Homo sapiens: one gene and its partner. The protein of the gene in region 2 interacts with the protein of the main gene of each other region in a biochemical or structural test. Each region holds a gene or a part of one and is shown on either strand. Other genes may lie near its edges.

Region 1 (3,500 bases), about 19 Mb from region 2:
AGCTAATTTTTGTATTTTTAGTAGACACGGGGTTTCACCACGTTGGCCAGGCTGGTCTTGAACTCCTGACCTCAGGTGATCCACCTGCCTCGGCCTCCCAAAGTGCTGGGATTACAGGCGTGAGCCACCACGCCTGGCCATCTTATTTTAGTTACAAAAATTTCTGGAGGATTTTGTTAAGTGAAACTATGCTAAGTGAAATAAGCCAGGTACAGAATGACAAATACCACATGATCTCACTTATATGTGGAATCTAAAAAAAGTTGAACTCATAGGCTGGGTGCAATGGCTCATGCCTGTAATCCTAGCACTTTGGGAGGCTGAAGGGGGAGGACTGCTTGAGGCCAGGAGTTCAAGACCAGCTTGGGCAACATAGCAAGACCCTGTCTTTATTTAAAACAAAAAAAAAAGTTGAACTCATAGAAAAAGAAATAGTGGTTACCAGGGGCCTTGGGGTGGGGGAGGAAGAGGAAGATAAGGAGATATTGGTCAAAGGGTACAAAATTTCAGTTAGGAGAAATAAGTTCAGGGTATCTATGGTACAACATGGTGAATATATTTAATAACAAAGTATTGGCGGGGATGGTGCTCATACCTGTAATCCCAATATTGTGAGAGGCCAAGGTGGGAGGATCGCTTGAACCTAGGAGTTTGAGACCAGCCTGGGCAACATAGTGAGACCCTGTCTCTATAAAAACCAAGAAAAAGACTGAAGTACTGTATATTTGAAGATTGCTAAGATAATGGATTTTAAGTGATCTCACCACAAAAAAAGAAGTATATAAGGTATTAGATATGTTAATTAGCTTGATTTAGTTATTCTACAAGGTATCCATATATCAAAACATCATGTTATATACCATGAATATAGACAGTTTCTGTCAGTTAAAAGTAAATAAAAATTTTAAAAAATTATCAATTCGTTAATTTTACCAAGTTGGGGCAAAAGCCTTTTAACAGTCCAGGAAATATTTAAAGCTAGTCAACAGCTTCTACAGAGATGAAGAACATTTTGTCCTAAGGGGTTTCTGTAGGGATCACCCCCATCTCTAGACTTCTACCTGGTAAACACGCCTTCCACTGGGTGATGAGATTAAGGTGATGGACTGTCGATCAACTAGGTCCAAGGCCTGGGTGGCTGATGAGCCAAAGAGAAACTTCAGCCTGTGAAATAAAAACACTTCAGATTAGAAGGCCTGATTCTCAAAGTCACCTCAGTAACTTGCCCAAAGGATCACTAGACTTAGTATTTTTTAAAAATTCATTTTAATTTTGAAAAAAGGAAAATAATACAGCAAAACCCATGGACCCATTCACTCCCCAGAATTAATGTTAATATCTTGTGTACTTATTTCAGATCTTCTTGTATTATGTATATATGTGTGTGTGTATATATATTTATTTATTATTATTATTATTTTTTGAGATGGAGTTTTTCTTTTGCTGCCCAGGCTGGAGTGCAATGGCGCAATCTTGGCTCACCGTAACCTCTGCCTCCCGAGTTCAAGCGATTCTCCTGCCTCAGCCTCCCAAGTAGCTGGGATTGCAGGCATGTGCCACCACACCCGGCTAATTTTGTATTTTTAGTAGAAACAGGGTTTCTCCATGTTGGTCAGGCTGCTCTCAAACTCCAGACCTCAGGTGATCCACCTGCCTCGGCCTCCCAAAGTGCTGGGATTACAGGTGTGAGCCACTGCGCCTGGCCTGTATTATATTTTTAATAAAGGGAGTAAACTGTTAGTGATAAAGAAGCCCTCTTTATACTTCTCTGTAGTGCATCCTTCTTCCTACCTTCCCCTTATCCCTGAGGCAAGCACATGCATTTGTTGGTTTCCTTCCTGTTAATGTGTTCATATTAAATATTATATATAGAACATATGTATGCACACATACATAACAAACACACGTGCATAGATGTATGCATATACATATATAGTATTGTTTTAAAACATAAAAGGTATATTGTAGGCTTCTTTTTGCTGTTCCTGAAATAGCTCATGAAAAATAAAAGAAAATATAAAATATCGTAGACTTCTTTTGGCAACTTGCATTTTTTTACTCAATGCATTTTTGAAAATGAGGCATGTTGACGGACATTTATTTTTACTTTACCTTTGAATAATATTCCATTATATGTATACACTGAATTTTATTTAAGTACTCTATGTATGGACATTGTTTCCATTTTATACTATTATAAATAATATTCAATTATCCCCATACATGTCCCTTGGCATACATCTCTGAAAATCCCCCTTTAGTTTATGTAACTAAAGCATATGTTCATTTTCAACTTTAATAGATATTGCCAATAGCTCTCCAAAGTGGAAACAGGAGTGGTGGCTCATGCCTGTAATCCCAGCATTTTGGAAGGCTGAGGCAAGAGGATCACTTGAGTCCAGGAGTTCAAGACCAGCCTGAGCAATGTAGTGACACCCCATCTCTAAAGAAAAAAGAAAAAAAAAAACTAAAACACACAAAAAAGTGAAAACAGCACTCCCACCAGCACTGTATAAGACTTCTATTTTCTCAGGCCGGGCGCGGTGGCTCATACCTGTAATCCTAGCACTTTGGGAGGCCGAGGCAGGCAGATCACCAGAGGTCAGGAGATCGAGACCATCCTGGCTAACATGGTGAAACCCCGTCTCTACTAAAAATACAAAAAATTAGCCGGGCGTGGTGGCACACGCCTGTAGTCCCAGCTACTCAGGAGGCTGAGGCAGGAGAATCGCTTGAATCCGGGAGGTGGAGGTTGCGGTGAGCCAAGATCGCGCCACTACACTCTGGCCCAGGTAACAGGGAGACTCCGTCTCAAAAAAAAAATAAATGAAACAAACAAACAGAAAAACCAACTTCTACTTTCTCCATGTCCCCACTAACACCAGTATTATCAGGCTTTTTTATGTTGCCCATCTGAAGATAATAAATGTGTACTTTTTGGATTAGTAATAAGGCTATCCAACTGTTAAATGATATACAGGAAAAAACTTTGATATGTGAGAAAATTCTTATAATATTAGGTGAGAAAGGTTGAAGACAAAATTATATTTTAGGAACTCTCAAGCATGTTAACTTTTTTAAAGGAAACCTACAATTATGTCAAAATTAAAAGTTTAATTTTTTTTTTTTTTGAGATGGAGTCTCACTCTGGTGTCCAGGCTGGAGAGCAGTGGCACAATCTCGGCTCACTGCAACTTCTGCCTCCGGGGTTCAAGAGATTCTCCGGCCCAGCCTCCTGAGTAGCTGGGATTATAGGTGCAGGCCACCATGCCCAGGTAATTTTTGTATTTTTTAGTAGAGATGGGCTTTTGCCATGTTGGTCAGGGTGGTCTTGAACTCCTGACCTGAGGTGATCCCCCCGCCTTGGCCTCTCAAAGTGCTGGGGTTACAGGTGTGAGCCAGCGTGTCTGGCCTTTTTGTTTGTTTGTTTTTTGTTTTTTGAGACAAAGTCTCTCTCTGTCACCCAGGCAGGCTGGATTCCAGTGGTGCAATCATGGCTC
Region 2 (3,500 bases):
TGCAAACTAACTGAAAACCTAATTTAGGAGTATACTTTTGTAACAGATTGCTGAGGCTCAGCCAATCACATCATCAGCTTCAGTGGGTTCCAGGCAGCCAACTATTCAAACCATTTTCAAATAAGGCAAAGGCAGAGCTGTAACCAATTAGTTGTCTTTGTATCTCATTTCTGTTTTCTGACCATAAATGCTTTCAGACTATGTTGCAGCTCTGGAATTCTCTGAACCTGTCCTGGTTCTGAGGGCAGCCCAATTCTAGAATTGCAAATAAAAGTCAATTACAATCTGCAAAACTATATTTGCTTTAATTTTGTCTTTTAACACCTTGTTTTCTTAATTTTTATTATTTTATTTTATAGAGATAGGGTCTTGCTATGTTGCCCAGGCTGGTCTGGAACTCCTGGCCTCAGGCGATCCTCCTACTTTGGCTTCCCAAATTACTGGGATTACAGTCAGGAGCCACAGTTCCTGGCATGTTAACACCTTGTTCTTTAAAGGACACACAGGAGGCGATCCTTCTCCTGCCTGTAGATATTGTCACGTCTGGATTGATGCTCAAAATGGCTGCAGCCAGGCTTTCATAAGGGGAACAAGCTTGAAGACAAAACCAACATAAAAGAACAGAGCAGAAGGATGCAAAGGCTCTACGCCATTTGACAATGAGCCACTAAATTAACAAACCTCAGACTTCCTGTTATCAGAGATAATAAGTGTCCCTGCCAGGCATGGTGGCTCATGACTGTAATCCCTAGCACTTTGGGAGGTCAAGGCGGGTAGATCACCTGAGCCCAGGAGTTCAAGACCAGCCTGGGCAACGTACAGAGACCCCGTCTCTACAAAAAATACAAAACTTAGATGGGTGTGGTGGCACACACCTGTAGTCCCAGCTACTTGGGAGACTGAAGTGGGAGGATCACTTGAGCTTGGGAGGTAGAGGGTACAGTGAGCCGTGATTGTGCCACTGCACTCCAGAGCAAGACTCTGTCTTGAAACATAAAAGAAATAAATATAAATAAGTGTCCCTAGTATTTACACTTCTTTAAGCCTAGGTTTTGTTACTTGCAGCCTTAATGATACATGGACCTTTGCCTGAGTCCTTGGGAATTCAAATGCCTGATTTTTAATTAAGGCCATCAAGTGCTAGCACATAGTAGGATCTCAACATTAATTTCATCTGATGTCAGACGAAGGGCATACAATAGTCCCCTGTAAAAAGATATGTAAGAAGACACTCTGGGGACTCAATGATGTGGGTGTGAACATATATATATATTTTTTAGATGGAGTCTCACTCTGTTGCCCAGGCTAGAGTACAGTGGCACAATCTCGGCTCACTGCAACCTCCATCTCCCAGGTTCAAGCGATTCTCATGCCTCAGCCTCCCAAGTAGCTGGGATTACAGATGCGAGCCATCACACCCAGCTAATTTTTGTATTTTTAGTAGAGACAGGGTTTCACTATATAGGCCAGGCTGGTCTTGAACTCCTGACCTTGTGATCCGCCCACTTTGGCCTCCCAAAGTGCTGGGATTACAGGCGTGAGCCACTGCGCCTGGCTCATATGTGTATATATATGTGTGTATATATATGTGTGTATATATATATATGTGTGTATATATATGTATATATATGTGTGTATATGTGTGTGTGTGTGTGTGTATATATATATATATATGTATATGTATATGTATATTTTTTTCCTAAGAACTAGAGAGTGCCCTCAGGTCTCAAACCACCCCCGCAGGGGAAATTGAAAGTTGACGCTTTATGGAAGGAACCCCTGAGATAGAGCCAGTCCTTTGCTTTTTTAAAATATATTTTTAAAACATCATTCATCTATTTAATCATTACTGAGCTTCCATAATGTATAAAGAGAAAAAGTGACAAAAAGTGGGAGCCTGTAGGCAGACACGTGAACAGAAAGTACAAGTGAATAACTAATACAGGGAAGTTACTGTAAGCATCTATCTAGATCACAGCTGAGGCATAAAAAAGGATGTCAGGGTGGGTGTGCACCAGACACAGTGGGAGCTGGGCAGAGACAGACACATAAGCAAAGGGAGCAAAAGGCACTTGGACAGGAGAGCCAGCCTAGCCCAAGTCCTACCAGGGGACTGCACAGTGTGGTGTGGCCGGAACAGAGTGCAGTGGCAGCAGGCAGGCAAGACAAAGTCCTGGTCTAGGAGGAGCCAAAGGATGAAGCTGGCTGTGAGGGGCACAGCCTGCAGGAATGTCACGTGGTGGTCTCAAGTAGCAGTGAATGCAACACCTTCCCATGGCCACAGAAACTCCTTGGGTGACAGCTGTGGTGCCTTCAGCTGGAGTTACAGCCCTAGCAGGAATAGAACTGTATGGACTGAAAATTAAATAAAATGTGGGGATTTTTTTTTTCTTTTTGAAACAGAGTCTCTGTTGCCCAGGCTGGAGTGCAGTGGCATGATCGCAGGTCATTGCAACCTCTGCCTCCTGGGCTCAAGTGATCCTCCCCACTCAGCCTCTCGAGGAGCTGGGATTACAGACATGCGCCACGACGCCTGGCTAATTTTTGCATTTTTTTTTTTTTTTTGAGACGGAGTCTCACTCTGTCGCTCAGGCTGGAGTGCAGTGGCGCCATCTCAGCTCCCTGCAACCTCCGCCTCCCAGGTTCAAGCGATTCTGCCTCAGCCTCCTGAGTAGCTGGGATTACAGGAAATGGGCCACCATGCCTGGCTAATTTTTGTATTTTTAGTACAGACGGGGTTTCACCATGTTGGTCAGGCTGGTCTGGAACTCCTGACCTTAGGTGATCCACCCACCTCAGCCTCCCAAAGTGCTGGGATTACAGGCGTGAGCCACCACACCCAGCCAATGTGGGAATTAAAAAAAAAAGAGTCCTAGGAATCAAGTTGTGGGTTCCAGATCCCACCTCCATTCTGCCACTAGGACTGTCAGTCATCCTTTTTGAGCCTCAGGTACCTTCTCTGTTAAGTAACAGGATGGGCCAGATGATTTTTTTTTTCCTTGAGACAGGGTCTTGCTCTGTTACCCAGGCTGGGGTGTAGTGGTGCGATCAGGGCTCACTGCAGCCACAACCTCCAAGGTTCAAGCGATTCTCCTGCCTCAGGCTCCCAAGTAGCAGGGACCACAGGTGCACATCACAATGCCTAGCTAATTTAAAAAATTTTTTTGTAGAAACGATGTCTCATCATGTTGCCCAGGCTGATTTTAAACTGTTAAACTCCTGGGCTCAAGTGATCCTCCCGCCTCAGGCTCCCAAAGTGCTACCATTATAGGTGTGAGCCACTGTGCCTGGCCCCAGATGATCTCAAACTGCAGTCCTAGGGTCCTCAGTTAGGTATTAAGTACCTGAACTCACTACATAATGGGAACAGGGCAGAGACGGCAACCAGACTCCACCTTGAATACCAACTCCAACTGACTGGTAGTGGCCCCCTGGAGTGCTATATTGAGAAAAACTTCTAAAAACACTTTGACTTCCACAAAAAAGAGTGCTTGTGCCCG

The links. Proteins that work in one complex are often made in the same cells at the same time.
Region 1: the proteins of RAD51D (region 2) and ZSWIM7 form a complex in vitro, tested with the Homo sapiens proteins (one study listed by BioGRID).

What each region holds. Positions count from the first base shown.
Region 1 is NC_000017.11:15,986,205-15,989,704, forward strand, and holds part of ZSWIM7 (zinc finger SWIM domain-containing protein 7), read right to left. Parts: intron 1,165-3,500; coding exon 1,062-1,164; intron 1-1,061. UniProt on the Homo sapiens protein: Involved in early stages of the homologous recombination repair (HRR) pathway of double-stranded DNA breaks arising during DNA replication or induced by DNA-damaging agents. Required for meiotic progression, hence for fertility.
Region 2 is NC_000017.11:35,095,861-35,099,360, forward strand, and holds part of RAD51D (DNA repair protein RAD51 homolog 4), read right to left. Parts: 3' UTR 1-3,500. UniProt on the Homo sapiens protein: Involved in the homologous recombination repair (HRR) pathway of double-stranded DNA breaks arising during DNA replication or induced by DNA-damaging agents. Bind to single-stranded DNA (ssDNA) and has DNA-dependent ATPase activity.